3 separate regions of the Homo sapiens genome follow, and all the other regions are linked to region 1. Evidence: fine-mapped expression QTL. A gene starts in region 1. Each other region holds a variant in brackets. All regions are shown on one strand. Distances are from middle to middle.

Region 1 (8,172 bases):
ACACAAGTCACGGGAACCTTTCTAGATTCCAACTCTAACATCCCTCTTTCACCAAAGACCTTCCGCTGCCTCGGGATAAGTCCAAGCACCCCCCTCAAGTGCTTTGGCTCCAGCTGGGGCTCCTGCACCCTGCATCTCCCCCTCATCCCTCCCACACTTGCCCCCACTGGCCCCCACGGAGCAGGCAATGCAGAACTAGGGCTGGGAATGCTTGCTAGGTGTTTGTGCTCAGAGCATGGCCAGGGACTCTGTCAGAAGTGCTAACTCTGCAGGGGAATCCAAGGCTCTGAAGTCCAGGAAGCTTGGCCCCCAGCCTCCAGGCAGGGGACATGTGGCAGATCCCATGCCCTGGGCCTGGGTCTGAGGCCAGCTCTTACATTGCTGGCTGTGATTTGGGGCAAGTCTCAGCCTCCTCGTGCTTCAGTTTCCCCATCTATAAAACAGAGACAGTAGCTCCCGTTGCACAGACTAAATACATTAACACAGAGTGTGGGGCTGGGTCAGGGTCAGCTTGGGAGGTTACTTCTTTCTTCTGCTGCTGCCCCTGATCCCACAGAATGCCAGAGGCACAGCCTGCTCGCGGCCTTTCCGGGAAGGGGAGGGTAACAGGTGTCAGGTACTTTACCTCCCCTGCTCCTCCATGGGCCGAGATTGGGGGAGGGGGGTGACAGACTCCCAGACCTGCGCATCAGATGGGGGAACCAGGGGACAGTCCCCCAGCAAATGGAGGGTTCCAGGGGCCAGAAAGCGGGCCCCAGCCTGGCCAGTCCTGCAGAGGGGGCTGGGCAGTCTCTGAGCCCAGGCCGTGGTCACCCCTCCGGAGGCAGCAGGAAATAGCCTGGCCAAGCTCACAGCCAAGGCCCGCAGCTCCCGCTTCCCTTCGGGCCCGTTTCCTTTATCCGGTTGTTTTGCTCCGAATTCACCAAGTCCAGCCTTCCCCTCCCCTCAATTTCCACCCCCGGCCCCGGTCCAAAGTGGAGCAGGACGGATACGTGACGTTTTAGGGGCCCCAGGAGTCCCCCGCTCTGCCCTCCGCCCAGCCGGGAGCCGCTGACAGAGCCGGAGCGCGCCCAGCGTCCCGCGTCCGCCCTCTGCTGCCCGAGGCTGGGAGCGGCGGCTCCGCCCCGTCCAGGTGCCACAGGAAGTGCGGGTCTCCGCATTCCCCCTCCACCGCCCCCCGCCACCGAGGCGCAGATCCCGGGGCGGTCCTAGGCCCACAGAGAGGCAGGCGAAGGGAGTGCCGGACCCGCAGCGCCAGCTCCGTTTATTGAGGCCTTCGGCGCGTGGAGGGCGGGCCTCCTCCGTGACCCAGCGGCGGCCAGGCGCGCTCCCTTCTCCAAGTCCTGGGCCCTCCGGGGAGCGCGGGCTGCGTCGAGCGAGGGGCCGAGGTCACCAACAAGTCTACAGAACGAGGCGCGTCTCCAGGCTCTGCCGCGGCCCCGCTGGTTCTCCTCCCCGCGCAGGGCCAGGACGGGCCGCGCTAGGAGTCCCTGGAGGCCGGGGCGCGCAGCGCGAAGAGCTTCTCCCAGCAGGTGGCGACGGCGTCCAGGGCGCGCAGCAGGAGCTGCCTTCGGCCGCCGCGACGCCGGGCAGGGCGCATCTTGGGCCGCCGGCTCCGCTGTCGGGGACAGGGCGGTCAGCGAATGCGCACGGCCCCCGCGCCCGGCCCGGCCCGGGAAGGGAGACGCGACCCAGCCCGACTTCAGCCTAGGGCCGTGGAGCCCCGGGACGCGCGGCGGCCCTGTGGGGGTTAAGGGAGGTCTGGCTCTGGGTGCACTCAGGGACGCACACCTGGCGCAGCGTCCTGCAGTGGCGCCGCATCACCGCCTCGGTGCGCACAGCCACGGTCCAAGCAGCTCTCTCCAGGGCCCCGCGGCGGCCCCCGGCCACCGCCCCGCGCAGGGTCCGACCCAGGGACGAGATGGACAGGAGGATACTGTGCTCCTGGGGAGGGAAGGGAGGAAGGCGGGGTGGGGGTGGGGGGAAACTGAGAGAGGAGCAGGCCGGCGAGCTTGGGTAGGGGCGCCTCCTCCATACCTTCTGGGCGCCACAGGAGGCCCGAGGCCGTCCCCGCCGTCCCGAGCTCCCGGGTCTAGTCAGGTTTTTCTGTATGAAATGAAAGTGTCTGGAGCCTGGCCTGGTCTTTTCGGCCCCCGCCCCGCCCCACTTCACGGCGGCCTGCAGATCCTCGAAGATGATGGCGCGATAGTGGCGGAGCACGTCGGGGACGCTGCAGGCCGGGGAATAGGCGCGGCTTGGCGCGGTCCCCAGCAGCGCCAGCAGGAGCGCCCAGAGTGCAGGCTTAGGGGGTACCTGGAGGAGACAGCAGGTTGGGGTTAGGCCTGGGGGGTGTTCCCAGCACAGGGAGCAGCCAGCCCACCTGCACTTTGTTTCCGTAGAAGCCCCACCCCCTGCCCCACCCCACGGGATCTCTGAGCGAATGAAATGGACGTGTCACCAATCAAGAAAGGCTGTAGGCACAGGCCTGGCGGGATAAATCAGGAGACACAAGAGATAGGTCTGCAAACCAGACAGTTCTATGCTCCCTGCAAAGATGTGAAAGGGGTGAGTGATGTCGGCTGGGAGGCGATGTCACTGAGTCCTGAAGAACCCATCAGGAGATAGAGGGGGCAGGCCCAGAGTCAGGAGAGCCTGGCTCTGTGGTCCACGTGGGAGTGGGGCCAGCAAGGGGTGGAGCACCCTCAGGACCGCACAGAGCAGGGCCCCCCACCAGCCCCGTACAGCTCTAGTGGGGCTGGTCTGCAGGCTCTTGGGGGTACAGTAGGAAGTTGTCCCAGTACAGCCTGTCTCACTCATGGCCATGCCCATTCAACTCCACACCTCCCATACTGGCGCCCTCTGGGTTAGCTCACAGAGACGTGGGAACTGGGGACTCCTTGTACCCCCAACCCAACTGGGGCAGGGGCTCAGAGCTCCAAGCCACACCCTATTGGAAGGGGAAAGCTAGGGGGACACCCAGAAGCTATAGAGGAGGAAGGAGCCACCACATCCAGCCCCAACCAACAGTCGCAAAAGGCCCCTCTGCCTGTACCAGCCGCCCCACGCCATCCCTCCGGGCAGCCTGTGCCACAGGCCTCCCCCGACCCAAAATGGAGGGCCTGCGCCCGCAGGGATAAAGCCCAAACATCAAGGAGACAGCTGACGGCCCCCAGGTTCCCAGCCACCCAAAAGGGGCCAGCCCCAACCCTTCCCCTGGGCCCCCAGGATGGAGTCAGACAGCAGATCTAGGGCTGGAAATTAATCATGCGAACCCAACCAAGATAAGAGGACTCGACTCGGCTTCCTAGCCCTGTCAGGGGAGCCTGAACAAGCAGCACCCCAACCCTTGCATAGAGCTGGGGGCCTGGTGGGCGGTGGCAGCTCCTGCTCAGAGCACAAAGCAGCAATGGCTGGAAGAGCAGATGGCTTGCTGTGGCCCCTTCCTGAAACCTGACCCCCCCAACCACACACGCCACAGCCAACTTGGTGGGCTCAGAATTGCCACGTCATTCCCTCTGCCTGCTCTGGGTCAGAGGTCATAGCGAGAACCAGAGCCTGACTCCTGAGCAGGCCAGCTGGAGCTGCAAGGATGTCCAGCACCTGCTGTGTCCCACCCAGGTGGGGCAGACTGGCTGCCCTGGGAGTCCCAACTGGCCTGTTAGTACCACTTCCAGGCTCAAGCCTCAGCCCAGCTTAGAACAGGGTTGCCCGGCACCCAGGAGCCCCCCTCCCCCAACTGCCAGAAGCCAGGGCACATGCACCCAGTGCCACCCACAGGGACGCAGTGACCAGAGCCAACCGGAGATTTCCTGGTGGGGCTCAGGGGAACAAGCAGTGTCTCCTGAGCTGTGTGTACCCCCAGCCCCTCCACCCAAGTAAGCCCCCTCCCTAGAGGAGGCCCACAGCTGCTCACCATGGGCCTTTCAGGGTCTTGCCCTCCCTCACTCCCGCCAGCAGGCCACGCACATGATCCTGGGGTCCTTGGGCAGGGTGTGCACTGCCGCACCAGGTCCAACACCAGCCAACCGCTTCCCTGGACAGGCTGCCTGGAGGACTGCAGAGGGGCAGGCCAGGCGGAGGCTTTTGAAGTTGGCTCCTCCAAGCTGAGGGAGGGAGCAGGAGAGGGAAGGAAAGGCCACGCAATCCCAGCCCTGCCCCCTCCCTCTCTCCACTCCCTATCACTTCAATTAACCTGGCCCTGGAGCTGGGCAGCCACCTCTCCCAGGGGATCCAGGGCTACTGTGGGTCTTGGATTAACTTGTCCGTCCCAGAGATACTGTTCTGTCAAGGAGGGGTGAGGCGCCGCGTGGGCTGGGGCAGTGCAGGGCCCAGCTGGTGGGGGAGGGGAGCCAGGTGAGACTGGGGCCGACTCTGTGGCCAGCAAGTGCTGCCTCTCCCAGGGATCTGGCTGATGGGCAGAGCTGGTGGGAGGCCCTCATCCCCTCCCCAGCTGCCGGACCTGCAGCCTGACATCCAGGGGGCCCTGCCCCAGCAGGTCCCAAGACATGGGGCTTCCCGGGCCCCCGCTGCTGGCCCGGCCTCACTCCTCCTGGGCTGAGGGGTCTCTGGCTGAAGAGGTAAGTCTGAGGCTGTTACTCTGCTGCCTGCCGTAAAGATACCCAGGAGCAGGGTGGGCTCCCCCGATCCTTGGCTGCTGTCGCTTCTGCTGTGGTCTGGGGCACTCTGGTTAGCAGCCTGACAGGCAGTGGTGAAGAGGCACCTCAGAACACGAGCAACCTCTGAGGCACAACTCATCTTTGCAGGCTGAAAAAATTTCAGTTGAAGACAAGTTAAGGTAGTTTCCCAGGGGGAAAAGTCAGTGACTCACAATAGTCAAGAACAGACCACACAGGTGACAGGAGTCCCCTAGGATTGTAACACTGCATCTTTACGTTTTTGCCTTTTCCGTGTTTGGATGTGATTAAATGCTGTGACAGGCTGTGCAGGTCTGCAGCCCAGGAGCCCCAGGCTCTGGCACCCGGGCACACAGCCTGGGGGTGCAGGAGGCCGTGCCTGCCAGCCTTGTGTAAATGCACTCTTTAATGTTTGCAAGACGACATCACCTAACGAGGTTTTTCTCAGAATGTATCCGCACTGTTAAGTGGCGCACAACTGTGGTTTGGCCAACTCAAAGCATTTGAGAAAACCCCACACAGGCAAGAAAGAGGAGACACTCACACATGGACAATGTAAGCGCTCCGGAACTTTCCAAGGGCCCTGCAGGAAGTATCCCCTGAACATGGCCTGAAACATTCTTTTCTGTGTGACCCCTCAATGCCCACCCAGCACTGGCCATTTCAGCTCTGAGGTCAGAGAAGGGCTTCCTTCCTACGCCTCGGTTTCCACATCTGTACAGGGCCAGGCTGGCTCACAAACTTCCTGGGCCTCGGTTTCCACATCTGTACAGGGCCGGGCTGGCTCACAAACTTCCTGGGCCTCGGTTTCCACACCTGTACAGGGCCGGGCTGGCTCACAAACTTCCTGGGCCTCGGTTTCCACATCTGTACAGGGCCGGGCTGACTTCACAAACTCCAAAAAGCTGCAGGACTCTCTTCATCTTCAGAATAAATGTTGAGGGCTCCCTCATGCTTCCGTCTCTCCATGAGGGATCAAAGGAAACTCCTCCACAAGTTCCAGTGAAAACACTCATGAAGCTCCTGCAGCTGCTCCTCAGGACGGGGCGAGAGGAAGGACTTCCACATTCCAACGATTTGAGCTGGACCCCAGGTTGCCTGCCCAGCAGAGACCAACCAGCAGTTCCTGACCCCATACAGGGGTGGCAGGTCCCTTGCCCGGGATTGACCATGTCCTCAAGGTCCCCAGAACCACAGGGAAGGGGGACCCACACCCACATTCTGGTCTACCAGGACCGCCCCACGTGCAGGCAGGGATCTCCCACCCCAGCCATTCTCACTCGTCAGGAGCAGGGCAGGCAGACCACAAGGCCTAGCACAGGCCCCCATGTGCAGGTGGGCAGAGCTGTGGGTCAGTGACTGACCACCACCACAGGCCCTGCCATCGGTACCACAAGACAGGCCGGGACCCTCCAGGGCTCCCCTCTCACAAGGAACATCCAGGGACAGCTGCTCTCCAGCAGCCTCCTCAGCCCACATGACAGCGCCCTCCTCCCCGCCCGCTGGCCTCAACGACTGTCCACCCACACCCTCTGGGCCAGCCATGACCTCCAGCCAGATGTCTCTAGCCCCGGCCTACACAAGAACCAGCTGGCTCCCAACTGAATGCACACACATGATCCCAGGCCTGAGGACGTCCTTTATCCTTACACAGCTAAGGCTGAAGAGAAGCCAAGTCTCTCGGGTGATCAACGTTCAACCTAGAGATGAGAACCATCACTGTTCAACCTGGAGATGAGAACCATTACAAGGGCTTTAGGGTTAAACTGCGAATGATAAATTAGCAAAGATAAACTCACGGCCGGGTGCGGTGGCTCACGCCTGTAATCCCAGCACTTTGGGAAGCTGAGGCAGATGGATCACCTGAGGTCAGGAGTTTGGCAGCGGGCGCCTGTAGTCCCAGCTACTCGGGAGGCTGAGACAGGAGAATTGCTTGAACCCAGGAGGCAGAGGTTGCAGTGAGCCGAGATCGTGCCACTGCACTCCAGCCTGGGCGACAGAGCGAGACTGTCTCAAAAATAAAAAAATGAACTCACCTCCAAAAGAAAGAACGCCTCTTACTGGTGACACTGTCACTCAGCACATGCCTGAGGGGCCCGGGAGGCTGTGTGGAGAGGCCCTGCGCAGAGCTGGGTTCTCCTGTTTGCACTCAGACCCCAGGGAGGCCCCAGCTGTCCCCTGACCAAGACCCTTGCAGGCGGCTGCCAGGCTCCTGCGAGCACCTGCGTCCTGCATGCAGCTTGGTCCCCACTGTCTCCAGCTGTCCTCACAGGGCTTTTGGCCAGAACATCTGCACCCCTACCACCTTCTCCACAGTCTTGGGGAACCCGGGCACCTCCACAGTGCCTCCTCTGTGAGACACCGGCTGTCTGCAAGAGGCTTCTGTCCAAGCAAGGGCGATCACAGCCACCCCAGGACGGCATGGGACAGGCCAGGACAGGCCAGACTGGGGCAGCAGAAGCAGGAGCCAGAGAAGGGCCCCAGAGAAAACCAGCAGGCTGCCTGTTCTGACACGAGACATAAAAACTTTTAATGAAGGAGGACACAGCTCAGAGCCCTTCCACATGCGGCCCAACCCTGCCCCACGGAGACCGGCCATGGCAACCGCTCAATCAGAAGGTGTTCTTGATGCGGCCGGCCACCAGCCTAAGGATGTCCCCGATCTTCTTCTGCCAGTTGGCGATGTCCTTGGACACGGCGCACCACAGCTCCCCATGCCGAGGCTCTGCACTCTCACAGCGCTTCCTCACCTCCTCCTGCTGCTCCTGGGGGGACCACAGGGCACGTCAGGCAGGGGTCCTCCCACGCTACTCCCCGGACCTCGCCTGCTTCTCGCCTGGCCCCTGCAGACCTGGCCCTGGCAGCACCAACCCCAACTGGCGGGCCAGAGGGCACAGGCCCTGCACCGGAAGGCAAGGCTCTTTCAGGTGTGTTCCTCAAAGGAGCCCCACCTCCTGAGGAGCATGGACCCCACCAGCCTCAGCCCACAGATGAGGAACTGAGCCAGGCTCCCCATGTCTGTGCCTCACACAAGTGCTCACGTCTGCCTTCTCCAAACAAGGAGTTAGGGTTCACGTGGGCTGGCAACACTTTCCAGGGAGGACCAGGACAGCCTGACTGCCTCCAGCACAGCTCAGACAACGCTTGGCTCTAGCGGGGCGGGTGGGAGCAGAGGGGCTGCTGCCCAGGCTGTCCTAGAAAGCCACACTCAGGCTCAGGCCCAAGAAAAAGGCCAACTCCATTCCCATTCCTAAAGTGAGCCCAGGCTCCAGCCAGCAAATAACTCGTTAAAATACTCCAGCAGACAGGCCACCCTAACGGACAGGGTGCCTCAATTCCAGGGTGTGGAGCTGTGAGGCTATAACCAGAAAACGGATGTGGAGGCAGAGACTGCCTTGTGGGGAGGTGTCGAGGATTCTGTGCCCCACACACCCGGTCCATCCTCCCGACCCCGGGCAGAGTCACGCTGGCCGTGGCCACCTCCTAGAGCCCCCAGGGCTGGCGGAACTCCCCGCCACAGTCCCAGAAGGCACTGAGC
Region 2 (8,142 bases), 24 kb before region 1:
TGGAGGAAGGCAAGGGGCTGGCGCGGCCCGCAGAGGAGGCCCGAACACCCCGGGGGCTCCGAGAGGCGGGACAGGGCCAAGGAAGGAGTCGACGGGCCAGGCTGGGGGTCTGGAGTTAAGGGACAGGGAAGGGTGCGGAGCCTGTGACTGCGGGCGAGGGAGGGGTCTGAGTCCAGAGCGGGTGGCTCTCCCGGGACAAGGTCCAGGCCTGATCGCGGCCTCTGCCGGGGTTGCGGGAGTGAACGGCAGGGCTGGCCCGGGGCAGGGGTCTCGGCCACGGGTGGGGGTCTCCCCTGCGTCCCGGTTAGTCTCTGCCGGGGAGGGGTCTCGTCCTGCCCCTCAGGTCGTCTTCCGGCCCTAACGGGGGTCGGCGGGCTCGACGGGGTCTCGGCGGGGCGGGGTTCCCGGGGTCCTGGCGGCCCGCGCCCCTCACCGCGCTCTTCTTGGTCACCATCTTGTCCAGCCTCCGGGCGATCCGCGCAATCTCCTCTTCCTTGCCCATCATCGCCTCAGGAGCAGCGACCCCCGCGCCCGTCGCGCCCGCCTCCGCAGCCGGGCAGGACCCCGGCCCCGGCCGTCGCCACCTCCCACACCCGCCGCAGCCGACGCAGCCCCGCCGCGGACGACAGACCCCCGGTTCAAACCCTCGGCCCCGCGGCCGCGCGCGGCATCCTAGGATGCGTAGTCCACGCGCCCGCCTGCCGCGCCCGCCGCGCCCGCGCTCTGGACCACAACTCCCAGGCGCCACGCGGCGCGCACAGCCTCCTGGGAAGTGTAGTCCTGACCCACCGTCGCCAGTGACTCGTGATCCCACAATACCCCGCGAGGGAGGCGCCCCGGGCACGCCCCTCCCAGAGCTCAGACATCCCGGAGCGACCGGGCCCCAGGAGGCCCAGGAATCTGCTCCCTTCTCTCCTCCTGCTTCGGGCCTTGCTGTCCCGCGGCGTCCTTCGGTGGGTGGCTCAGGACCCAGTGCCCTCAGCCCTTCTCTTGGGCCCCGCTGAGCCCTGCGCGCGCCCCACTTGGCCTAGAAGGCCGTCCCCAGCCTCCCAGAGCCCAGTTTGGGTCATTCGGGCTTCTGAGTAGAGTTACTTCTTCAAGAGGCCCGCGCACACTGGGAGGCCTCTTGTGGGGCCCTGCAGGTGTGAGCGCGCGGTAGCTGGACGTGGCGTCTGGAAGGGGCCATTGCTGGGGTTCGCGAAGTGCGGGGGCCTCTGCCGAGGCTGCGTGGGCAAGGCCCCTGCCTGCAAAGTCAGCTACCAGGGAGCAGATTCTGGGCTCTGCACGTTGACCACTGTGTCTCAGTCTCCCCACCTGTGAAACTGGAGTTAAGTGTCCGCCTCACAGGGCTCCCGTCAAGATGATGTCAGCTGATTCACATCACATGCCTGAGAACAGAGAGGGGATGGAGCATGACAATTAGTGTTCATTGACATTGTTGTTGGAGGTCCCTAGGTAGGGCCAGACTGCAGGCAGCCAGAGAGATGGCCCAGGCCTAGGGAGGGTTGAGGACGGGGACAGGTGCAGGGCCAGCATCCCCACCACTGCCTGGCAGCTCCCCAGTAATGCAGATGCTGGGTGGTTTCCTGGAGAGGGCACAATCCTGGGGGAGGGTGTGGATCAAGGAGCCTGTAGTCATTCAAGTTCAGGCCAACGAACTATGAGGCCAGGTGGCAGGTGGAATGGGCTGAGCATTTCTTGGGCTGTCTGTGGCACTAATCACATATAACTGAGCTTCCCCGCAGCCAAAATGAAAAGGAAAATATGGTCAGTTAAGAGACTCATCTTAGCCGGGCAATAGTGGCTCATGCCTGTAATCCCAGCGCTTTGGGAGGCCCAGGCGGGTGGATCACCTGAGGTCAGGAGTTCGAGACCAGCCTGGCCAATATGGTGAAACCCCGTCTCTACAAAGAATACAAAAACTAGCCAGGTGTGGTGCCGGGCACCTGTAATCTCAGCTACTTGGGAGGCTAAGGCAGGAGAATTGCTGGAACCCGGAAGGCGGAGGTTGCAGTGAGCCAAGATAGCACCATTGCACTCCAGCCCTGGCCAACAACAGCGAGACTCCGTCTCAAAAGAAAAAAAAAGAGAGAGAGAGACTCATCTTGGTTGGGCACAGTAGCTCACCCCTGTAATCCCACCACTTTGGGAGGCTGAGGTGGGCGGATTATCTGAGGTCAGGAGTTCCAGACCAGCCTGGCCAACATGGTGAAACCCTGTCTCTGCTAGAAATACAAAAATTAGACCGGGCATGGTGGCTCATGCCTGTAATCCCAGCACTTTGGGAGGCCAAGGCAGACGGATCACGAGGTCAGGAGATCGAGACCATACTGGCTAACACGGTGAAACCCCATCTCTACTAAAAATACAAAAAATTAGCCGGGCGTGGTGGCGGACGCCTGTAGTCCCAGCTACTCCGCAGGCTGAGGCAGAAGAATGGCATGAACCCAGGAGGCGGAGCTTGCAGTGAGCGGCGATCATGCCACTGCACTCCAGCCTGGGCAACAGAGCAAGACTCCATCTCAAAAACAAACAACAACAAAAAAAAAATTAGCCGGGCGTGGTGGCACATGCCTGTAATCCCAGCTACTTGTGAGGCTGAGGCAGGAGAATCACTTGAACCCAGGAGGCGGAGGTTGCAGTGAGCCCAGATTGTGCCACTGCACTCCAGCCTGGGTGACAGAGTGAGACTGTCTCCAAAAAAAAAAAAAAAAAAAAAAAGACTCAGGCTGGGCGCGGTGGCTCATGCTTGTAATCCTAGCACTTTGGGAGGTGGACTGCCTGAGCTCAGGAGTTTGAGACCAGCCTGGGCAACAGGGTGAAACCCCGTCTCTACTAAAATACAAAAAAACAAAAAAAAATTAGCCGGGCATGGCGGCATGCGCCTGTAGTCCCAACTACTCAGGAGGCTGAGGCAGGAGAATCGCTTGAATCCGGGAGGCGGAGCTGGCAGTGAGCCGAGATCATGCCACTGCACTCCAGCCTGGCAACAGAGTGAGACTCGTCGCAAAAAAAAAAAGCTCAATCATAGGGAAAAAGCATAGAATTCCTTGTGAGGAGCAAAGCCTTTCTAAGACAGAGGCCCCGCGATATTATATTATTATTATTATTAATAGATGAACACGGTTTCCATACTGACTGATTCTGCCCCTCACAGTGAGCTGGGGACATAGCTTCCAGCCTAGACCATCCAAGCAAGTCCTCGTGGTCAGAATCCCATGGTTTGGGCATATATGAAGACTTGAAGGGTCCAGCCTCATCAGAGGCACGAGGGGAGGCTAGAGCCACCCAGCCTTCAACCACTGTCTCAATGGCTGACAGCCAGACCAAGGAGCTGGTCAGGGTCCTGTAGAAGCCACACTGGAACTGCCCTTGTGCAGGAACCCCAGAAAGTTTGGCTTCGGAGGTCCGGGCGGCCAGGGTTTCAAAGCTGGTTCCCACCGTCCACAAAGACACTGGCCACATCCATGGAGCCTGCCTGGCCAGACACATAGGCTTCTCCAACGGCCGAGTGTGAGTTGATTTGAAGACCACCGAAAGGAAGCCAGCCCTCAAGCTGGGGGTGGGGGGGAGACCTCCAAGTATCAGGACTGCAGATCCTGAGATGCTGGTAAGGGCTGCAGCACAGAGAGGCCCCTCCTGGGCAGGAGGTGCAGCCCAGACAGCACAGAGGAGAACTAACCCCAGAGAGCTGCAAGTTCCTAAGAGTGGAGGTGCAAAGGAGAGAGGGTCAACGTCCCAGAAGCATCAAGGAGCTGCCAGAGGAGGCTGTGCAGTTGTGCATACGCCGCAGTCCCAGTTGAAGTGTTGGTGGGGCGGGGTCTGGGGTATCAGCACGGACCTCTGGAGCAAGTCACTATCAAGGAGCCAGCAGTGAGGCCGCTCCCCACCTGATTTCTCCCTGGGATGGACAAGCGCAAGGTTCTGGGGAAGGAGTGCACACAGACGCCCCCGGAAAACCAGACTAGAGACCCAGCCTTGACCCTCCCCAGGCCGGCCCAACCAGTGGAGGGACTTTGCATGAGGGATGCTTTTAAATATCTGGTTCATCTGAATGTTTTCAGCCACAAAGATCCCCTAGCACGGTAACTCTTAAAGCATTACCTAGGGAGCTGGGAGCTGGTCGAGAACAAAGACGACTGCCCCCTTGCACTCCCCGCCCCCACCAGGGGCTGGGGCCCTGGGGTCTCTGTCCTCTGTGATACCTGTGTGCAGATCAGAAGTACAGGCCACAGGCCAGCCAGGATGGATAAGGAACAAGGGGTGCCCAGAGGAAGGGAGAGGCACAAGAAGGGCTGGGAGTTTCTTTTCAGAGGTGCAGAGAGTGTCCCAGAGTTGGGAGGGAGAGGGATGTGGTCTGGAGTGTGTATTGAAGCCTCAACAACCTTACCAAGCTGCAGGGAGGGACAGAACCCACTGCAGGACAGGGCCTATAGAGACGATGGGGTGGGACAGAGACATACTGGGCCTGGGAGCTGGTGGGGGGCGGTCGGGCAAGATGGGAGGGAACAGTGCGAGGCGTCTCAACAATCCAGGGGGTCAGAGACCCAGAGACCAAACCCCTGACAGAAAATAAACTGGTGGGAAGAAACCATCATCTCCTTTTTTTTTTTTTTTTTTTTTTGAGACAGAGTTTCACTCTTGTTGCCCAGGCTGGAGTGCAGTGGCACGATCTTGGCTCACTGCAACCTCCGCATCCCAGGTTCAAGCAATTCTCTTGTCTCAGCCTCCCAAGTAGCTGGGATTACAGGCATGCGCCACCACACCCGGCTAATATGTTTGTATTTTTAGTAGAGACGAGGTTACATCATATTGGTGAGGCTAGTCTCAAACTCCTGACCTCAGGTGATCCACCCGCCTCGGCCTCCCAAAGTGCTGGGATTACAGGTGTGAGCCACC[G/A]TGCCCGGCCCATCATCTCCTTTATACCGACCTCTAGCAGAAAGGTGTCGTTCGTTCAGTTATGAACGAGGCCATGAACCAAATCTGGTCAGCTGGGCCCGTGGCTGACCCGGCACAGATGGGAACTGCCTCGCACCCCCACACTCGCTGCTGCTGGGACTGCAGAGGCTGTTCAGTGAGTCACATCTTGTTCAGCAGATTGGTAAAGAAGCACTTGGGTTTTGATATCACACTTTAAGAAAATATTTGCATAACTGTGTGTTGGTAGAACTGGCTGCCTTTATGACCCCGTGAATTCCACCTTGTGCTCTGTGTAGGAGGGGCCTCAACTAGGACTCCAGGAACTGGGACTCGGCCCTTGCTGAGCCTGAGTGGAGGTCCCACTCTGGGCCCTGTTTCCTCCTCCATGAGATGCCAGGTGGTCTTCTACGTCCTGGGGCCCTGGGCATGGCCACACAAGACAGAGCTCGTGAGGAGCCTGACATGTCTCAGTGGGTCCCAGTGGAGGCCCACAGAGGCTGCAGACGGGGAGGTCAAGATGCTGTGGCGTCTTAAGGACAACGGCTGGCAGGTCGGGGATCCCTCAGGAAGGGGTGTCAGCCGTGGGCCCAGCCTACGGGGCTGCATTAGGGCACGTGGGGAGCCTGGTCGGACAGGTGTGGATGGGGTCACTGGTGGCCTGGTTCATGGCAGGGGCAGGTGATGGAGAGAAAGGAGCGGACGGGACAGGCAGGGAAGGGGGTTAGCAGAAGAGGTCGGGTGCCTCTGACCTGCGGGCCGCAGCCACTCCGCTATGACAGGAGCCCCGAACCCTGACATGCTCTAGTCCTGCGTGGAAGCAACTACTGCAGGCGGAGAGGTGTAGGCCCATCCTGGTGATCAGGGAACCTGCAATCCGGTGGGATGGTCCCGCCCCCGGGCAGAGGCAGGTGACTGGCCCCAGAGCCTGTGAGGAACAGTGGCCTCTAGGTGGCAGGAGTGAGCCACGGACGGGTGGGCCTCACTTCACCACCACCCCACCCCCAAGCCCCAGGGAGGTCCAGGTGGTTCCCAGCAAGAGCCACAGCTGCCCCCCAGGACTGTGAAGTGGCCGAGGTGAGAAGGTGGCCAGTCCTAGAGAGTGGCCTCGTTTGTGAGGGCTGTGGCGGCGACCAACCCTGAAACTCCCCAGTGCCCCTGGTCCCGGGTCCCTCAGGAGCTCTGGACTTCTGGGACCTTGCTCAGAGCATTCTCGCCCCCCAGCAGACCCCTCCTGGAGCTTACCGACCTCCGGACTTCCTCCTCCACGGAGCTTCCCCAGCAAGCTGCTCAGGGCCGCCAGACGCTCCCGGGCCCTCAGAATTTGCACCCAGAGGCTGACAGCATCAGAACCATCGATTCTCCTGTGGGGCCTCGCCGCAGGGTGCTGCTCCAGCCCCTACTCCCGCCCTCGGCAGCTGAAGAACTTTCCCTCCCCTGTGCGCAGGCACACATGCACACGCACACACGCAGGCGGGAGCCTCGCACACACGGGGAGCCACTGCGGACTGGTTGGCGAGTGTCTGTCTCTCACCCGGCCCAGAGGCAAGGCCTGGATCCCTCAGCCGCGTTAGGGCTACGGTTAATGTTCGGTTTCGGTTAAACCCTGAGAACAGGCGGAAATGCACGTAGCCTGAAGGGTGGCTCACAGCGGAGGCAGTGCCCACGGAGGAGAGGGACGTTCACTCACCCGCTCCAGGCGCTGGTCCTGGGAGCCACAGCCACATGACGTGCAGGTGGAGGGGAGAGGCCTCCTGACTAGGAGCTGCCACAGGGTGAGGAGTGCCTCACTCCCCTTCACGGACCCAGCGGCCGCACGACACCAGGCTAGGTCTCTGTGGTCACCTGCAGCCAGCCTCACCGGGGGCCGAGCCCCAGCAAACAGGAGGGTTCCATCTCCTCCTCCAGGGTGTCCTCCACACTCGACGTCTTTATGGACAGGGACATATGGATAGGCCTTTAGGAATTCTCTGTGGGCAACGGGGCCCTGTCCTGAGGGCTCTAAGGGGGAGATGTGACCCACCTTGGAGGTCTGAGGGGGCAGCCCTGGCCCCAACAGGCGTCTGGGGAGAAACCCCTGGTCCACCCCACAGGGCCAGCCGCACCTTTGGCCCAAAGGCCTGCCCCTCCCCCATCCTGAGTCCAGGAAACGTCGGAAACTCAGGCCATTTATTTTTCTATTTGTGTCCCCTGCCCCCTGCCCGCCCAAAGCCGGCCATGACCCCAGTGGCCGCTATCCATGCTTCCCCTCTGGCTGAGGCAGCGCCGTGGTGGGAAGGCTCCCGCTGCCAAACTCACACGGAGCCCCCCTTGCTTCCTGCAACCACAGAGCGGGGGCTGGGGATCCTGCAGCCCCAGGAGCCCCCACCCCCTGCCACCCCATGGGCAGCCCTCCCACAGCCCAAGCACCTAGGAGCCGTCTCTGCGCCCCTTTCCATCAGACCCTCCAGCCCACCTTGGGGGCTCTGCCGAGCTGTGACCCCAGTGGACCCCACCCAGGCCTCCCTTGGATGCCCCCACCAGCAGGGCAGCGACGGGGCTTAGGTCCAGCAAGTGCTCCCCTGTCCCATGCGCCAGCAGAGGAGGGCAGGGGATGGGGACTGGGCCCACTGCTCCTGGCTATGCCACTGCAGCACCCGGCTCTCTGGACCTCAGTCGCCCAGTCTGTAGAATGGGAAGAGCCACCTGCCCAGGGCAGCGTCTCTCGGAAAGTCCCCAGCCCAGCCCATAGCCTTGGCCCAGTCCCAGCTCCCTCCCACAGAAGCAACGCTGGGGGAGGCAAGAGGCATCCCCAGAGGCCAGTGGCGGCCCTGGCGGCCTGCTCCAGGCTTGCTCTAACAATGCACTTCCCCCACACAATTCCCAGAAATGCAGCCCTGCCAGCCCGCCAGCCTGGCGGCCACTCCACCCTCCCCTTCCCCAGAGGCCCCAGGCAGCCGTGGGGTCGGGGCTATGGGTGAAGCCTAGAGACCTGACTCACAGGGCAGCAAAACCAGGGTTCCCTGAGGCGGCACCTCCCAGGGGCCCAGGCCTCCCAGAGAGAGACCAGGGAGACTCCTGGGGCAGCCAGATGGGGTCTGAGAGCAAACCTTGGCCAGGCTCCCGCCGCGGCAGAAGCAGAGCCCCCTGCCTTCTGGCAGGGGACTGCCCGTCCCTCCTGCCCCGCACAGCCCCGTCTTCACGTAGCAGCTGAGCTGAGGCAGATCACACTCCACTCAGAACCTC
Region 3 (8,172 bases), 48 kb after region 1:
ATAAGTACACTACTTTTTTTTTTTTCTTTGAGACAGTCTCACTCTGTCACCAGGCTGGAATGCAGTGGTGCGATCTCAGCTCACTGCAACCTCCGCCTCCTGGGTTTAAGTGATTCTCGTGCCTCAGCCTCCTGAGTAGCTGGGATTACAGGCATGCACCACCACACCCAGCTAATTTTTGTATTGTTAGTAGAGACGGGGTTTCACCATGTTGGCCAGGATGGTCTCGATCTCCTGACCTCATGATCTGCCCGCCTCGGCCTCCCAAAGTGCTGGGATTATAGGTGTGAGCCACCGTGCTCGGCCAAGTACACTACTTTTTAAAAACATTTAATTTAATGGCTTTCTTCATGGGTCCGTGTCACCTGCTGTTTTTTGTTTTGTTTTTGTTTTAGAGACACGGCCTTGGTCTGTTGCCCAGGCTGGAGCACAGTGGCATAAGCATAGCTCACTGTAGCCTCTAATTCCTAGGCTCAAGCGATGCTCCTGCCTCAGCCTTGGGAATGTAGCTGGAACTACGGGCATGTGCAACTGGCTAATTTTAATTTTGTTTTTGTAGAGACAGGGTTTCACCATGTTGCCCAGGCTGGTCTCGAACTCCTAGACTCAAGTGGTCCTCCTGCCTTGGCCTCCCAAGGTACTAGGATTACACATGTAAGCCACTGCACCCAGCCTGATGTTTTTTAAAATGCATTAACCCTGGAGGTTCCAATCAATTTTTAAAATGTAGGGCTGAGTGTAGTAACTCATGCCTGTAATCCTAGCACTTTGGGAGGCCAAGGTTAGGGGAGGCAGGTGGATCACTTGAGGCCAGGAGTTCAAGACCAGCCTGGGCAACATAGACAAAAATTAGCTGGGTGTGAGCCTGGCGTGGTGGCTCAAGCCTGTAATCCCAGCACCTTGGGAGGCCAAGGCAGGCAGATCACAAGGGCAGGAGTTCAAGACCAGCCTGGCTAACATTGGTGAAACCCCGTCTCTACTAAAAATACCCATCTCTACAAAAATCAGCCGGGCGTGGCGGTGCATGCCTGTAATCCCAGCCACTTGGGAGGCTGAGGCAGGAGAATCACTTGAACCCTGGAGGCGGAGGTTGCAGTAAGCCGAGGTTGCGCCATTGCACTCCAGCCTGGGCAATAGAGTGAGACTCCATCTCAAAAAAAAAAAAAGAAAAAAGAAAAATTAGCTGGGTGTGGTAGCACGTGCTTGTAATCCCAGCTACCTGGGAGGCTGAAGCAGGAGAATCGCTTGAGCCAGGAATTGAAGGTTACAGGGAGCTATAATCAAGCCACCGCGCTCCACCCTGGGTGACAGAGTAAGATCCTGTATCCAAAAAAAAAAAAAAGTGAAATGCAATGCCATTCACGTTTAATTACTATAGGTATAAAATTTATGCACAATGATTTAATAACGAGCTTCTAAAAAGATGTCCAGGCCAGGCACATTGACTTATGTCTGTAATCCCAGCACTCTGGGAGGCCAAAGGATATGGTTTACATCTGTGTCCCCATGAAATCTCATGCTGAATTATAATTCCCAATGTTTGAGGTGGGGCCTGGTGGGAGGCCACTTGAGTCTTGAGGGCAGACCCCTGATGGCCTGGTGCTGTCCTCGAGGCAGCAAGTTTACATCACGTAAGATCTGGTTGTTTAAAGTGTGTGGCAAGACTGGGCACGGTGGCTCATACCTGTAATTCCAACACTTTGGGAGGCTGAGGCGGGTGGATCACTTGGGGTCAGGAGTTCAAGACCGGCCTGGCCAACATGGTAAAACCCTGTCTCTACTAAAAACACAAAAATTAGCCAGGTGTGGTGGCGCGTGCCTATAATCCCGGCTACTTGGGAGGCTGAGGCAGAAGAATCACTTGAGCCTGGGAGACTCAAAAAAATAAAAAATAAATAAAATTCCAGAAGAACTATATTTTACTATTCTAAAATTATCTTCAAAAAATAAAACATTCTACATACATCACAGGAAGTTATGATTACATGTATAAAAAGCAACAGAGCTGGGCGCAGTGGCTCACGTCTGTAATCCCAGCACTTTGGGAGGCCGAGGTGGATGGAGCACAAGGCCAGGAGTTTGAGACCATCCTGGCCAACATGGTGAAACCCCGTCTCTACTAAAATACAAAAACTAGCCAGGCGTGGTGGCAGGCACCTGTAATCCCAGCTACTTGGGAGGCTGAGGCAGGAGAATTGCTTGAACCCGGGAGGCAGAGGTTGCAGTGAGCCAAGATAAAAAAAAGCAACAGAAAGAGGAAATGAGCCAAAATGTTAACTGTTACTTTCTAGACTTATGAATAAATGTTATGCTTTTACCCATACTTACTCTTATTTTCCTAATATTCTATAATGAGAACTTTTTATTTTTTTCCTTTTTGAGACAGTCTCTGTGGCCCAGGCTGGAGTGCAGTAGCGCACTCTTGGCTCACGGGAGCGAGCCACCACACCTGGCTTCCGTTCGTTGCCTGTGCTTGTGGGGTATTACTCAAGAAATCTTTGCCTAGTCCAATGTCCTGTAGAGTTTCTCCAATGTTTTCTTCTAGTAGTTTCAGCTTGAGGTCTTAAAGTCTTTTAATTTGATTTTTGTATGTGGTGACAGAGAGGGGTCTAGTTTCATTCTTCTGTATATAGATATCCAGTTTTCCCAGCACCGTTTATTGAAGAGATTGTCTTTTCCCCAATAAATATTCCTGGTACATTTGTCAAGAATGAGTTCACTGTAGAGGTACCTATTTGTTTCTGGGTCCATTCTGTTCCATTGGTCTATGTGTCTGTTTTTCTGCCAGTACTATGCTGTTTTTGTTACTACAGCTCTGTAGTATAATTTGAAGTCAAGTGTTCCCCCAGTTTTGTTCCTTTTGCTCAGGATAGCTTTGCCTATTCTGGGTCTTTTTTGGCTCCATGTACATTTTAGAATTATTTTTTCTTTTTCTTTTTTTTTTTTTGAGACGGAGTCTCACTCTGTTGCCCAGGCCGGAGTGCAATGGCACGATCTCAGCTGACTGCAACCTCTGCCTTCCAGGTTCAAGTGATTCTCCTGCCTCAGCCTCCCAAGTAGCTGGGATTACAGGCACCTGTCACCATGCCCAACTAATTTTTGTATTTTTAGTAGAGATGGGGTTTAGCCAGGCTGGTCTCGAACTGCTGACCTCAAGTGATCCACCTGCCTCAGCCTCCCAAAGTGTTGGGATTACAGGCATGAGCCACTGCACCTGGCTATTTTTTCACTATCTGTTAATAATGTCCCCAGTATTTTGATACGGATTGCATTGAATCTGTAAATTACTTTGGGTAGTATGGATATTTTCTTTTATTTTAAGATGGAGTCTCACTCTGTTACCCAGGCTGGAGTGCAGTGGTGCAATCTCAGCTCACTGCAACCTCGACCTCCTGGGTTCAAGCGATTCTCCTGCCTCAGCCTCCCAACTAGCTGGGACTACAGGCGTGCACCCCCACACCCGGCTAATTTTTGTTTTTTGGTTTTTTTTTTTTTTGAGACAGAGTCTTGCCCCGTCACTCAGGCTGGAGTGCAGTGGTGCAATCTCAGCTCACTACAACATTTGCCTCCTAGGTTCAAGCAATTCTCTTGCCTCAGCCTCCTGAGTAGCTGGGATTACAGACGTGTGCCACTACACCCAGCTAATTTTTGTATTTTTAGTAGAGACAGGGTTTCACTATGTTGGTCAGCCTGGTCTCAAACTCCTGACCTCAAGTGATCCACCCACCTCACTCTCCCAAGGTGCTGGGATTACAGGCGTGAGTCCCAGCGCCTGGCAACTTTTGTAATTTTTTTAGTAGAGACAGGGTTTCACCACGTTGGTCAGGCTGGTCTCGAACTCCTGACCTCCAGTCATCCACCTGCCTCGGCCTCCCAAAGTGCTGGGATTACAGGCGTGAGCCACCGTGCCCGGCCATTTTTGTATTCTTAATAGTGACAGGGTTTCTCTTTGTTGGCCAGGCTGGTCTCAAACTCCTGACCTCAGGTGATCCACCCACCCTCAGCCTCCCAAAGTGCTGGGATTACAGGTGTGAGCCACCACACCTGGGGGCATAGCCTGCAACTTTAATCAATTTGTCAGTTCCAATAGTGTTTTGGTAGAGTCTTTAGGGTTTTCTAAATATAAGATCATATCATCTGCAAACAAGGATAATTTAACTTCTTCTTTTCCAATCTGGATGCCCTTTTATTTATTTCTCTGGTCCGACTGCTCTAGCTAGGACTTCCAGTACAATGTTGAATCACAGTGGTGAAAGTGGGCATCCTTGTTGCGTTCCAGTTTTTCCCCATTCAGTATGATACGAGCTGTGGGCCTACCATATGTGGCTTTTTTTTTTCTTTGCGACACAGTCTCATTGTGTTGCCCAGGCTGGAGTGCAGTGGCACAATCTCAGCTCACTGTAACCTCCACCTCCTGAGTAGCTGAAATTATAGGCCTGAGCCACCACACCCAACTAATCTTTGGATTTTTAGTAGAGACAGGGTTTTACCATGTTGGTCAGGATGGTCTCAAACTCCTGACCTCAAATGATCTGCCTGCCTGGGCCTCCCAAAGGGCTGTGATTACAGGCGTGAACCACCCCATCCAGCTGTATATAGCTTTTATTGTGTTATGCTCCCCCCCCCTTTTTTTTTTTTTTTTTTTTGAGACAGGGTCTCGCTCTGTGGCCCAGGCTGAAGTGTGGTGGTATGATCTCAGCTCACTGCAACCTCTGCCTCCTGGGCTCAAGTAATTCTCCCATCTCAGCCTCCTGAGTAGCTAGGACTACAGGTGTGTGCCACGAAGCCTGGCTAATTTTTGTATTTTTTTGTAAAGAAAAGGTATTACCCTCTTGCCTAGGCTGGTCTCAAACTCCTGAGATCAAGCAGTCCTCCCGCCTCAGCCTCCCAAAGTGCTGGGATTACAGACGTGAGCCACCACACCCAGCCTGAGGTATGTTTCTTCTATATGCAGTTTTTTGAGAGTTTTTATCATCAAGGAATGTTGAATCTTATCAAATGCATTTTCAGAATCAATTAAAATGATTAGGCCGGGCGCAGTGGCTCACGCCTGTAATCCCAGCACTTTGGGAGGC[C/T]GAGGCAGGTGGATCATGAGGTCAGGAGATCAAGACCATCCTGGCTAACACAGTGAAATCCCGTCTCTACTAAAAATACAAAAAATTAGCCAGGCGTGGTGGCGGGCAACTGTAGTCCCAGCTACTCAGGAGGCTGAGGCAGGAGAATCACTTGAACCCAGGAGGTGGAGGTTGCAGTGAGCTGAGATTGCGCCACTGCACTCCAGCCTGGGCAACAGAGCGAGACTCCGTCTCAAAAAAAAAAAAAAAAAGATCATATGGTTTTTGTCCTTCATTCTGTTGATATGATGTATAACACTGATTAATTTGCATATGTTGAACCACCCTTGCACTTGTATCCCCTGGGCAAAATGCCACTTGGTCATGATGAACGATCTTTTTTTTTTTTTTTTTTTGAGATGGAGTCTTGCTCTTGTCTCCCAGGCTAGAGTGCAGTGTTGTGACCTCGGCTCACTGCAACCTCCACCTCCCGAGTTCAAGCGATTCTCTTGCCTCAGCCTCCCAAGTAGCTGGGATTATAGGCGTACACCACCCACCATGCCCGGCTAATTTTTGTATTTTTAGTAGAGACTGGGTTTCACTAGGTTGGCCAGACTGGTCTTGAACTCCTGACCTCAGATGACCCATCATCCGCCCACCTCGGCCTCCCAAAGTGCTAGAATTACAGGCGTGATCCACTGCGCCCAGCCGATGAACCATCTTTCTAATGTGTTGTTGAATATGGTTTGCTAGTATTCTGCTGATTTCTGCATCAGTGTTCATCAGGGATACTGACCTAACATTTTCTTTTTTCAGTGTGTCTTTGTCTGGTTTTGGTATCAGGGTAATACTGGTTCTGTAGAATAAGTTTGGAAGTATTCCCTCCTCTATTTTTCAGAATAGTCTGAGTAGAATTGGTATTAGTTCTTCTTCAAATATTTGGTAAAATTCAGCAATGAAGCAATCAGATCCTGAGATGTTCTCTGCTAGGACACTTTCTGTTACAGCTTTGATCTCATTACCTTTTATTGGTCTGTTCAGGTTTGGGATTTCTTCATGGTTCAATCTTGGTAGCTTGTATGTGTCATTTAACATCTTTAATTCATTTGCAAATTACTCAACATATAATAATCAAGTCAGTAGGCCCTTTTCATTTCAAAGATGGTAACCCTGATGTATCGTAAAAGTAATCCACAAAATTCTGCTGATTTCTGGAAAAACTTAAGAGTTCTTAAGCTCTCCACTGCAGCCCCCAGGCCCTAAGGCTGTTCTGTAACAGCCCAGTGCTTATCCAGGCATGGCTACGACAGACCAAGACCCTCAGGTGGCCTAAAAGCTAAGCAGACACACATACTCTATTGCAACTTTTCTCCAAATATAAAACAATTCAAAACAAAACTTTTTTTTTTTTTTGAGACAGGGTCTCACTATGCCAACCAGGCTGGAATGATCATGGCTCACTGCAGTTTCTACCTCCTGGGCTTAAACGGTCCTTCCACCTCAGCCACCCAAGTAGCTGGGACTACAGGTGTGTACCATCTGGCTAATTTTTAAATTATTTGTAGAGATTAAGTCTCCCTACGTTGCCCACACTGGTCTCAAACCCCTGGGCTCTAGCTATCGTCCTACCTCAGCCTCTCAAAGTGCTAGGATTACACACGTGAGCCACTGCGCCTGGCCACAAAACTTTTTTTTAAACTTGGATAAATATTGTGAAAGGCAACAATTTCTTTTACCGTCTTTCTTTTCTTCTTTCATCCATCCTTTTATCCAGGGCTGCATAGATAGCATCTGCTTCCTCATCATCTTTCTCGTAGGGTCCACTTGAGAAGAGGCTCCCAGCATAGCCATTAAACTGAGAAGCAAACAACACGTGTAGAGGTCAGCTTTTCCTTCAACACCATCCCCACCAGCGAAACGGAGATCTCTACTTGTGAAATACTTGCTAAATTATTTTCTTCAGCCAACGAAGCCAAATCAAGGGACAGTCTACCATATAACTGGTGACTACTCTTCAAGCGTCAAGGGCATGGAAGACAGAGGAGACCCCCAATTGGAAGGGACCAAGGAGACATGACGAAATGCAATGGGGGATCCTGGACTAAGCCTAAGCCAGAAAGCGGACATTCATGGAAAAACATGAAATGCAAATACGACTGACAAATTAGTTAATAGTACTGTGTCAATGTTAACTCCTTCGTTTCAATAACTGCACTAAGGTCATGTAACATCGGGAGAAGCTTGGTGAAAGACATGCAGAAACTTTTTTTTGGGGGGGCACTATTTTTGCAAATTCCTGCAAATTTAAAATTATTTCAAAACTAATTTTTTTTTTTTTTCTGAGACAGAGTCTCGCACTCTCGCCAAGGCTGGAGTGCAGTGGCGCAATCTTGGCTCACCGCAACCTCCGCCTCCCGGGTTCACAGCATTCTTCTGCCTCAGCCTCCCGAGTAGCTGGGACTACAGGCACATGCCACCATGCCCGGCTAATTTTTGTGTAGTTTTAGTAGAGACGGGGTTTCACCATGTTAAACAGGATGGTCTCGATATCCTGGCCTCATGATCCGCCCACCTCGGCCTCCAAAAGTGCCAGGATTATAGGTGTGAGCTACCGCACCTGGCCTCAAAACTAAAATTATTTTTAAAAATTTTCCTCAGAGGAAAAATGTCATCTGTTAGAAGACAGTTAATCGGTATTCAGTCAGCTGAAGTTTTTCTTTAGATGTCTGTTTAGAGGGCAATCACTAAAGCTAAAAAAAGCAAATACTATCACCAATTCCACTTTAAGTTTTTATCATTAAAGACTGGCAGCCAGGCGCAGTGGCTCACGCCTGTAATCCCAACACTTTGGGAAGCCGAAGCGTGCGGACAACCTGAAGTCAGGAGTTCGAGACCAGCCTGACCAACATGGAGAAACCCTGTCTCTACTAAAAATACAAAATTAGCCAGGCATGGTGGCGCATGCCTGTAATCCCAGTTACTTGGAGACTGAGGCAGGAGAATCGCTTGAAATGGGGAGGCAGAGGTCACAGTGAGCTGAGATCACACCACTGCACTCCAGCCTGGCCAACAAGAGCGAAAGTCCGTCTCAAAAAAAAAAAAAAAAAAAGACTGGCCA

The links. PIP is the estimated chance that this variant, and not a neighbour inherited with it, causes the effect.
Region 2: its variant is fine-mapped to the expression of C20orf204 in whole blood (TOPMed, PIP above 0.99).
Region 3: its variant is fine-mapped to the expression of C20orf204 in aorta (GTEx, PIP above 0.99).

Annotation. Positions count from the first base shown.
Region 1 is chr20:64,032,068-64,040,239 of GRCh38, reverse strand. It overlaps C20orf204 (chromosome 20 open reading frame 204), which reads right to left and starts at 4,058. Exons shown (of 4, transcript NM_001387010.1): 1 at 3,914-4,058; 2 at 2,038-2,313; 3 at 1,792-1,944; 4 at 1,239-1,618. The coding sequence starts at 3,916. The coding sequence ends at 1,481. PRPF6 (pre-mRNA processing factor 6) reads right to left here. Exons shown (of 21, transcript NM_012469.4): 21 at 7,140-7,399. The coding sequence ends at 7,247. RefSeq lists silencers at 986-1,265, 1,456-1,775, 1,876-1,945 and enhancers at 2,591-3,184, 3,616-3,715, 3,185-3,778, 4,666-4,895.
Region 2 is chr20:64,055,676-64,063,817 of GRCh38, reverse strand. It overlaps TCEA2 (transcription elongation factor A2), which reads right to left and starts at 620. Exons shown (of 10, transcript NM_003195.6): 1 at 434-620. The coding sequence starts at 505. RefSeq lists a silencer at 360-719 and enhancers at 1,050-1,099, 1,110-1,239, 5,361-6,048, 6,049-6,738, 7,429-8,118 and 1 more. The variant G/A (reference allele first, on the strand shown) is at 4,900.
Region 3 is chr20:63,983,644-63,991,815 of GRCh38, reverse strand. It overlaps PRPF6 (pre-mRNA processing factor 6), which reads right to left. Exons shown (of 21, transcript NM_012469.4): 3 at 6,791-6,909. Among named protein-coding and RNA genes, the nearest start is that of PRPF6, 6.6 kb to the right of the region's middle. The variant C/T (reference allele first, on the strand shown) is at 5,076.